Linked DNA regions of Homo sapiens: region 2 is linked to region 1. A link means that fine-mapping ties the variant in region 1 to the expression of a gene that starts in the linked region. Tissue or cell type: gastroesophageal junction. Region 1 holds a variant in brackets; the other region holds the start of a gene. All regions are shown on one strand. Distances are from middle to middle.

Region 1 (5,143 bases):
GCCTCCCGAGTAGCTGGGATTACACCACCACACCTGGCTAATTTTTGTATTTTTAGTAGAGACGGGGTTTCACCTTGTTGGCCAGGCTGGTCTCAAACTCCTGACACCTCAGGTGATCCGTCCGCTTCGGCCTCCCAAAGTGCTGGGATTCCAGGTGAGAGCTGCCGCGCCGAGGCAGAGGTCTTGGTCTTGTAATGAGGCCGAGGGTAAAGAGTGGTCGTGCTTCCGGCTTCCTGCACACAAAGGCAATGGAGTTCATTCCCTGAAGTACAAGATTGGAAGTGCGACGCTGCCTATCTTCATTTTTCAAGGTCGTGTGATCAGTGGATGTGGCATTTTGTGTAAGATTTACAGTGGAATGCTGCTTATCTTAATGCTTTCACTGTCCTTCAATGAGCAGGTAAGAAAAAAAAAGGAAGAAAGAAAAATGTTGGGGGGGGGAATGCATTAGCGAATGCATTAGTGGAGTTGGCAGCCGAGTCCCATCCCTCCTCTGTCTCAATAAGTGTCAGATGATGCTATCATATAATTTTGTGGGAAAAAATAGGCCAAAGAAATGAAATTCAGAAGGACTTATTCTTTTTGGTTCTAAAATCAGTTTCTGAGAGCTGGCAGGCCCCAACTGCCAAGAGGAGACCCTGGCGGCCACAGCTCATCCTCTCTGACCAAGCCTTAGCTGGGGATGGGCCGGCCTCCAGGCAGGGCCTCCCGCTGGCTGGATCCCGGGCCACACTGTACAGAAGACAACCCCGTAGAGACCTTGGGTGGGGCAGAAGCCCCCTTCCCTCACTGACACCCTGCCGGTCTCTCCTGGGGTCTCCCAGTCTCTGCTGCCCAGTGGGGAAGCACCCGTCTCAGCCCAACCGCAGCCCCCCCCGGCTCCCTCCTGCCCTTTCACCTTTCCTGCCATTCCCCACTGTGTCCTGAAGTTTCTAAGAACATCCCCAGCGCCCTGTTGTCAGCTCTGGGAAGTCTAAAGTTCAGGGCTTTGGGTAATTAAACCCAAGGCCTCTCAGTGGGCTGGGGGTGAATGACCTGGCGAACGTGCCTGCGGAGATGCTGGGAGGAAGCTGAGTCAGTCTGCGTCTTTGTCAGGGTGGGCTGAGGCCAGTGACCCTCTGGGGGTCAGGGCCCTTGCAGGCCTCTTCCTTCCCTGACCTCCACCTTAGGAGGCAGCTGGCCCCTGAGACGCCTGCCTCACGACATTGTCCTGTCCCAGGAACTGGACTTTAGGAGGAGGGGAAGCTGGAGGGGGATGCAGCTTGACTCTTGGGAGAGACTTTGAGGTGTCTGGGCACAGGAGTGGGGAGTCCTCCGGGTACCCCATCAGGGACTGCTTCCACTGCTTGTATGGCCTCACCAGCCCAGCGCAGGAAGCCCCCTCTCCCTTCCCAGAATTGACCCTCTGCACCCTCTCCTGGGCCCTCTTCTCACTACCTCCATCTCCACCATGCCCCAACAGAGCCCCTCCCCCAGGCCCCTTTGGCCGCTCTCCACACCCCACAGCTTTCTGTCTGACCTGGTTTCTTAGCCTCTCTGGACCTCAGCCTCCTTATCTGTAAAATGGGAATAAGGATACTACTTCCCTTGTAACGCGGTGGTAAAGTTTAAATAAGCTAAGGAACACACTGCATGTCCTGCGGGCCCTGGCACACCAGACATGCTGACAGACGCTGGCTGCTTTCATCAGCTATGCAACCAAATTCTAAGGGGCCCTTCGTATGTGTCAGGCTGCGTGCCAGGAACCTAGAGGTACCACCGTACCACAGTACAAGATGCTGTGTCTGGCTTCGAAGAGATTTCAGTCTATGTGGAGAGAGAGAAAAGGGAAGCTATCAGCCAATAAAATCGTTTGCAAGCCTGTAATTCAGCAGGTTTTCAAGACCTGTCAAATGCCCAGCAATCTCACTCTGCAACTCTGCCTCTTAAATACAGCATCTTCCGGCCCAGCGTGGGGGTGGCTAAGCCCATCATCCAGATGTGATGAACTGGGGTCTGGGAAACCCACACCGGCCTCATCTGGCTTTTCCAGCCTGTCCTCCCTTCCACACATCAGGCTGACAGCACCAAACACGGCCGAGGCCTCAGCCCTGAGTCTCCCCGCTGCAGAGTGCCCAAGCCTGAGTTCCAGCAGGTTCTTCAGGGGCCGCTGACCAGGGAACACTGCGGTGAGGAGCGAGGACTTCGTCCCCACCCCGGCCCAGGGCAGGGGCTTCGTGGTGAGCCCACCCCACCCCAGAAGGCTCCTGGAAGGGCAGGGCAGACTGGCAGCAAAATCCTATAGGATGGGCCGGGCCAGAGGCAAGGGGTGGCCAAAGGCACCTGTCCAAGAGGTGGGAGGGACCACACCTGGGGGCAGGGACGAGTCAGGCACAGGGAACTCCGCCAGCCTAGAGGATCAAATTCCTCCGGGGTGAACTCTGAGATAGAAAGTTGGCCCGGGAAGCTCAAGGAGGGAGAGCGGCAGAGGGGAAGACTCTGCAATTCTGCTTGCCCCCCACCCCGGCCCAGGCAAGCCACCCTGCCCCCGGCCCCCACCTGCCCGCCCCGCCTGCCCTTCCTCACCCCGGTGCCTGCGGGATTGCTGGAGAGAACGCGGCGATGGAGCCGGGCAGGACCCAGATAAAGCTTGACCCCAGGTAAGTGAGGGCGGCGGGCCCTGGGCCAGTCGCTGGGCAGCGGTGGCCCCTATCCCGCGGCCTGTCCTCTCTCCCTCCCAGAGCCCTTTGGCGGCCGCACTCAGAATGAGACAGGACTGGAAATGCTCTAGCTGTTCCTAGGTCCTCAGGGACAACGTGGGTTTGGGCCAGGGTGTGACACTCCAGGGCCTCGGCCTTGCCCCCCAGCGTGGGGAGAGAAAGGTCGCAGAGCGGGGGCTGTGGAAGGCATTCGCAGAGGAAATGGCAGCATCCCTCAGCAGCAGGGGGCCCGTCCGTCTGTAAGGACTCACCCTTCCTCTGGGATCCTGCTCTTCCTCTCTGGTCAGTCCCTGGGCTGCTGCCCGACCCGCATGGAGAGAATCCACGGTGGGCTCTTCAGGCACGGCAGCCAGGCACAGCCTGGCTAGGTGGCAGCTTGTCTTACTCCCCCACCTGGGCCAGTTCTCCACTCCCTCTAAGAAAAGGGCCCTGAGGCCGGGCGCCTGTAATCCCAGCACTTTGGGAGGCTGAGGCGGGAGTCCAGGAGTTTAAGCCCAGTT[C/T]CAGTTTGAGTCCTGGAGTTCGAGACCAGTGTCTGAGCAACATGGCGAAATCCTGTCTCTACCAAAAATATAAAAAATTAGCCGGGCCTGGTGGCGTGCACCTGTAGTCCCAGCTTACTCATGGGGATGGGGGTTGAGTAGATCACTTGAGCCCAGGAGGTCAAGGCTGCCTGTATGAGCCAAGACAGACCACTGCACTCCAGCCTGGACAACAGAGCAAGACCCTGTCTCAAAAAGAAAAAAAAAGAAAGAAAAAGGAAGGAAGGAAGGAAGGAAAGAGAAGGGGAAGGAAGAGAGAAAGAGAAAGAGAGAGCAGAAGGAAGGAAGGAAGGAGAAGGGGAAGGGGAAGGGAGAGAGAAAGAGAAAGAGAGAGTGAAAGGAAGGAAGGAAGGAAAGAAAGAAAGAGAGAGAAAGAGGCCCTGAGGGGAAATGGACAAAGTCCTGCACTCAGGAGTGGTTGAGGGTCCAGTGTGCAACCCTCCCCCTTCCCCCAGCCCCCATGGTTCTGAGCACAGGCTGGTGTCTCGCCAGGTACACAGCAGATCTTCTGGAGGTGCTGAAGACCAATTACGGCATCCCCTCCGCCTGCTTCTCTCAGCCTCCCACAGCAGCCCAACTCCTGAGAGGTGAGTGGGGACCCTCCTCAGAGGGAACTGAGAGGAGGGAAACCAGGATAGCTGAGTGGAGCTGGGGAGAGGCGGCCCTGAGCTGGTGCACCTGGGCAGCCGGGGAGAATAACTGGCCCGGTGTCTGTCATCGTGGTTAAGGCTCTGGAGAAGGGCAATGCCTCAAGGAGTCAGTGGGTCAAAAGGGTAGCATGAGAGCCTGGCTCCGGAGAGCAACCGTCATGTTGGGCCTCCACAAAACTGGCCTCAAAGCTCATTCAAACTGCGGACACTGCGACCTGGGGCGCTTTTTCAGACCCCAGAGCCATCTGGGGACCCAAGATGGTGCCCAAGTGGTCCAAGCCCCATCGGGTCTCCTGGAGGGCTGCACGGCATCCGCCCTGGACCCATGTCACTCTAGAGGGTGGTTACGGTGAGTGACGTGCTTCACACAGGTGAACCAGTTGTATTTGTTTTACGATCCAGCCTTTCTGAAAAACCTTTGTCCTCACTGGAGCATTCTGTTGTCGGGTTTTTGTGTGTGTGTTTGTGGGTATTTGCCTCATTCCACCCCTGAGCTCTCAGGTGGACAGATGGGATTCAAAAACCTGTTCTACAGTGTTTATTGTAGTGGAGTAATTTGTTTGCAATAATAAGTCATAATTGTCCACTGAAGGGGAGGGTGTGGGGATCCCCGAGGCCAGCTCAAGTTCAGCTGTTGGAAGAATTCCTTGACTGGAAATTTTACCTTTGCGTTTTGTCGCTCTGTTTCCTGAAGATAACTTGGGGTGCTCCTGGTCGTCCATCTACTGCTTTGATTCCTTGGATCCCACCCATTCTTTCACTTTAAGAAAAAACAAGTAATTGTTGCAGAGGTCTCTGTTTTGCAGCTTCCCTTTTGCAAGAAGCACTTTTTCCAAATAAAACAGTAATTAAAAAAAAAAAAACATAGGTGAACCTGCAAAAGTCCTCGCAGTGTTGGCCAACAAGATTCTATTACTGAATTACTTTTGAAAGTGAAAGGCATTGGCTGGGAGCGGTGGCTCACGCCTGTAATCCCTGCACTTTGGGAGGCCGAGGCAGGTGGATCACTTGAAGCCAGAAGTTGGAGACCAGCCTGGCCAACATGGTGAAACCCCGTCTCTACTGAAAATACAAAAATTAGCCAGGCGTGGTGGCGGGCACCTGTAATCCCAGCTACTCGGGAGGCTGAGGCAGGAGAGTTGCTTGAACTCGGGAGGCGGAGGTTGCAGTGAGCCGAGATCACGCCACTGCACTGCAGCCTGGGCAACAGAGTGAGTGAGACTCCGTCTCAAAAATAAAAGAAAAAAAAGGAAAA
Region 2 (5,143 bases), 400 kb before region 1:
TGATTCCCGTGGAGACTCCTTCAACCACATCTGCAGGGCAGGGCCGTGTGGCGGCTCCTTCCGGCCTCCACGTCCTCACGGTGGGATGAGCACTGGAGCGGGGTTGTGTGGCCAGGGTGGGGTGGGGGTGCTGGAGGGTGGGGAGGTGTAGGGAGGTGGTGGCAGTTTCCTTTGCCCTCAGCCTAGTCCTGAAACATCCCGAGGTGGAAGGGTCCGCTTCACCAGCATGGCTTCTCTTGCAGCCTTTAAACGGCACTCGCCTTCTGACTCACTCCCAGGAAGCTCCTCAAATATGCGCCCAAGAAATATTTTCCCTCGGCGACTGTTCTTAGCCTGCTGAGAGGCAGGGCAGGAGCTGAGACTCTAACCCCAGCTTGAACTCTGGACCCCAGACTCTCCCCCAAAGACTCAGACACCCAGAAACACAGAATAAAACTTGGTCCTGAAGCCAGAGGGACAGCCTGGAAAGTGTGGGGAAGAGGACGGGGGCCCCCGAGGGAACATCTCCCACAGGCCTGGCATCCCTCCCCTCCCAGCTCTGTACACGGAGGAGCCCAAGGCCAATGCCGGGGCTACGAGCCCCAGGCAAGGCCGTGACCCAAATGGAGGCTTTTAAACCCGAGCTCAGAGGTAAGAAGCCCACGGCCAGCACCTCCCGGCCCTCTGCGCCCTGGCCGCCTCCTCCGCACCACCCTCCCGGCCGGCCTGCCCCTCTCCTCCTTGTCGCTTCCCTTGCTTGCTGCTGTCTCCCGATCTTCTCCTCTCTCCATTCCCAGGGTCCTCAGTTTGTCTGCGTCTCACCTGTCTCGTCCTCTCACCCTGCAGCTTTACATGAGTTTTCTTCCGTCTCCATCACCCAGCTTTCCTGGCATCCCCTCTACCCCCAGCTCTGTACACAAGGGTGTACATCTTTCTCCTTGACTCTGTTCCTCTTGCTCTGGCTCTGCCTGTCTTTCTCTCTGCGAGTAAGCCTGGGCTCTCACCATGGATCCTTCCAGACATCGCCGGGCTGCTCTCTGGCCCTCTGTTCTCTTTTCTCTCTCTTTCGAGCATTCTCCCTCTGTCTTTCCCCTCAGATCTTGTCCCGTATCTGCCAGTTCATGCCTCCTCTTCCCCACTTTTCTCCTCTTCTTATTTTTTATTTTATTTTATATTTATTTATTTATTTATTTATTTATTTATTTATTTATTTATTTTGAGACAGAGTCTCGCTCTCTCTCCCAGGCTGGAGTGCAGTGGCGCGATCTTGGCTCACTGCAACCTCCACCTCCCAGGTTCAAGTGATTCTCCTGCCTCAGACTCCTGAGTAGCTGGAATTACAGGTGGGGCCCACCACGACCGGCTAATTTTTGTATATTTAGTAGAGACGGGGTTTCACCATGTCGGCCAGGCTGGTCTCGAACTCCTGACCTCAGGTGATCTCCTGCCTTGGCCTCCGAAAGTGCTGGGATTACAGGCATGAGCCACCGCGCACGGCCTCCACTCTTCTTTCTCTCTCCCTCTTCTCTTCCTCTTCTTTCCCTCTCTGGGTCTCTCTCCACCTTCCCCCCATGTTGTCCCATTCATCTCTTTCTCCTTTCCCTCTCCCTCTTTTTCTCTCCCTTCTCTTCCTCTTCGCTGTCTCCCTTTCCCCTATTCTCTCTCTCTCTCTCTCTGTCTCCCCGGACCTCTTTCTCTGACAGCTCCCACCTCCCCCAAGTGCTCCCCGCAGCCAGCCTCATCTGCTGTCTCCATCACTTACCTGGGACCACATGCGGAAGGAGGCAGAGACACAGGCAGCTCAGGGACACCCAGGGGACCCTCCTCCAGCGTGCCCCCTTCATGGCTGCGGCAAAAGTCCCCCTGGCTCCCTGGGGAAGCTCCACGGCCCAGCAGCTGCAGTGTGAGGAGCAGACGTGAGCCCGTCCCCTCAGGCGGCTGGCCCGAACCAAGTGCGTTTCTCCGAAGGGGCCAGGGAACCTGGGAAGAGGACAAAAGAGGGCGGGGCCCCACGCTAATCACCCTTTTCTCTCCTCAGCCCCACCCCACTACCCCACCAGGAAAGAAAACACCGATACACCCGTTGCTCTGCTTCTCATCAGCCTGAGCTGAGTGGCGGGAGGGATGGGAGGAGACATGGGGGAATGGGAACAGGTCACACTGGAAATGGGTGGGCCACCCTCCTAGCCGGGTTCCTGGGTCCTCTCCTCCCTCCCCAGGGGCTGCCCCTGTCCCACCAGAGCTTTGGGCTGCTGGGAAGAATGGGGAAGAAAGGGCCCCAGAGGGAGCGACCTTGGGGCTGTATGAATGGGGGAAAGAGAGTGAGACTTAAGCAGACCCCAAGGAATTGGGAAGCGGGGAACCATGTGGGTGAGGGGCAGGAACAGAAATGCACTGTATGCCGTCTTTTGGAAAGGGGTGGTGTGCTTGGAATATCTGCTCAGTGCAGGCGCGTGGCAGACCCCAGACGCGTGGCAGACCCCAGACGCGTGGCAGACCCCAGACGCGTGGCAGAACCTCAGTGCAGATGCGTGGCAGACCCCAGACGCACGGCAGATCCCAGACACATGGCAGACCCCAGACCCATGGCAGACTCCAGACGCGTGGCAGACCCCAGACGCGTGGCAGACTCCAGACGCATGGCAGAACCTCAGTGCAGACTCGTGGCAGAACCTCAGTGCAGACGCATGGCAGACCCCAGATGCGTGGCAGACCCTCACCAGATGGTGGACTTCTTCTTTCCAGGGCAGGGAGCTGGAGCCAGGGTGCAGGGAGCCAGGGACAGTCTGGGAGACTGGCCTGAGGGAGCTGGCATGGGCAGTGGGTTGAAGGCAGAACCTCGGTAGGAGGAAGCGACTGTAACCTGTGAGGAGGTGGAGCTGCTCCTGGAGACCTGGGGGCTCTGCTCACCCCAGTTCCACCTCTTGGAACTCACAGGCACAAGCGAGGAGGGAAAGGGACCCCAAGTAGGGTTGTAAAGACGAAGAGGGCAGTTGGTGTAGCTCTCTGCAAAGGAAAACGGGGATACCTCCGCTCCCCTCTTTGCCACAGTGTGAATCTCTGCTTCTGATTCCTCAAGACTTGATTCCCGAATGTGGGGTGTCTGTGGGGTGACTCGTCCCAGAGCAGGGACCTTCGATGCTCAGACACTGTGGGGCCCAGGACAAGGACTCAGGGTTTCTGCATTCCCAAGCAGAGCCAGCCTTGTCCAGCAAGGAGTAGGCAACCGACGCTGTGGCGCTGTCTCCGAGGGTCACGGAGGCCCTGTGACCACTTGCTTCTAGAAGCTGAAAGTCTGTTCATGGCCCCAGGCCAAAGCCTGGGCCACGCCATAATAATGCGGATACCGTGGGGAAGTGGCGTGGTCCCCCAACAGTCCCTCCAGCTCTGGGTGGACGAGCTGACCCTGTTCTTTCCTGGAGGTAAGAAAATCATAAAGGTAAAGAGTCATGTGGAGCATCCTGTGGGCGCCTGGACGGGGCAGCAGGAGGGACCTACTGCAGGGAATTCGCAGACACCAAGGCCCAGCTTGGCCTTCGTGATCATTTTGCACTTTTTTTTTTTTTTGAGATGGAGTCTTGCTCTGTCGCCCAGGCTGGAGTGCAGTGGCACCATCTCAGCTCACTGCAAGCTCCGCCTCCCGGGTTCACGCCATTCCCCTGCCTCAGCCTCCCTAGTAGCTGGGACTACAGGCACCTGCCACCACGCCCGGCTAATTTTTTTTGTATTTTTAGTAGGGACGAGGTTTCACCATGTTGGCCAGGTTGGTCTCGAACCCCTGAACTCAGATGATCCGCCCGCCTTGGCCTCCCAAAGTGCTGGGATTACAGGCGTGAGCCACTGCACCCGGCCCGTGGTCATTTTTCTGTCAGCTCTTGCTCGTGGGTCCCCCCATTACCTTTCCACAGGTTTTGTTTGGTGACGCTTTCAGGACAACAGTTTTCCATCTCTAGAGGAGAAAGGAGCATCCAGGTGAGACCAAACTAAGCGCTGGACATCTTGTTGACCGAACACAGGTAGCTGACCTCTTTCCCATGCCAGGAAGGCCAGAGGCACACAGCGCTCTCCGGAAGCTGCTGTGACGGCCGAGACTCCAGGAGGGCGTTACAAACCTGGGCTTGATCCCAGCTCTGCCACCGCGTCACCACAAAGTCACAGCCTCTTCGAGCTGTTTTCCTCGTTCACCTGTAAAATGGGGATAACACCTATCTGAAAGGTTGTAGGGTGGGAGTGAGCCTGTAGATGCTGAGGGGCTGCGGGAGTATTAGGACACCTGTTGTGAGGACACCTGTTGTTACGACACCTGTTGTGAGGACACCTGTTGTGGAGGACACCTGTGGAGGAACGTGGCTCCTCCTTCCATCCGGGCATCATCCCTGGAGGGAGACACAAACGAGGGCCAGCCAGGATACAGGAGGAGTCCGGAAGTGAATTTCCAGGCCCAGGTCTTTCCTGCGTCCCCTTTGAGTCTTATAGGATCCTGATTAGGAGCGTGAGATCCTGGAGAACTGGGCGTGCGCACTCCTGTTCACCTCTTCCCTGCCCACGCCCGTTTCCCTTCTGCTTTCCAGCTCCCCTCAATATGCCCATTTTCCAGAGTTAGGATGTGTCTGGGTCTCTGTGATAAATGGCTCTGTCTTCATCTGGGTTGGGTCACGGGACACCCATTTGTCCTTCCTTCTCTCCTCCCAAGGCATCCGATGGGGACAGAATGGGGTGAATGAGAGGGGACAAAATGAGTGGCTTCTCTAGTTCCTTGTGGCCGAAAAACCTCCTAGGCCCGCATACTGCTGGGTCTGCATAGGGGCAGGAGTCTGAAGTCAGGTGTAAGTTAATATTCCACGGGAGGCAGGAAGAGCTTAGTGTGGATGTGGGGTGTAAGTAAATTGGAGCAAGGATAAGATCATGAGATTCTCCCAGACTTGGCTTGAAGAGACAGCTGGGTTTGAGGCAGCAAAGCCAGGATCTCCAAGAGAGATTCCCCTTCTAAGCTACCCAAGTAGGAGTCCCTAGTTTTTTGGGTCCCCTAAAATTGCTTACCTTTATATCATTTATGCCTCGTGCTGTGAATAAAGTTCAATCTTGTCAGACTTAGGACAACTAGGCTGATCTCGAGCAGGAAGCTGGATGTTTATTAAGTCTGATTTACCTACTCAGTCTGGAC

The links. PIP is the estimated chance that this variant, and not a neighbour inherited with it, causes the effect.
Region 2: MUC4 starts here. The variant in region 1 is fine-mapped to the expression of MUC4 in gastroesophageal junction (GTEx, PIP above 0.99).

Annotation. Positions count from the first base shown.
Region 1 is chr3:196,214,112-196,219,254 of GRCh38, forward strand. It overlaps SLC51A (solute carrier family 51 member A), which reads left to right and starts at 2,423. Exons shown (of 9, transcript NM_152672.6): 1 at 2,423-2,639; 2 at 3,731-3,825. The coding sequence starts at 2,602. LOC124909479 (a long non-coding RNA gene) reads left to right here. Exons shown (of 4, transcript XR_007096240.1): 4 at 312-531. It overlaps LOC105374304 (a long non-coding RNA gene), which reads right to left. Exons shown (of 4, transcript XR_001740544.2): 2 at 4,553-4,648; 3 at 74-233. RefSeq lists an enhancer at 5,125-5,143. The variant C/T (reference allele first, on the strand shown) is at 3,200.
Region 2 is chr3:195,809,995-195,815,137 of GRCh38, forward strand. MUC4 (mucin 4, cell surface associated) reads right to left here and starts at 1,935. Exons shown (of 25, transcript NM_018406.7): 1 at 1,742-1,935. The coding sequence starts at 1,823. RefSeq lists an enhancer at 1-195.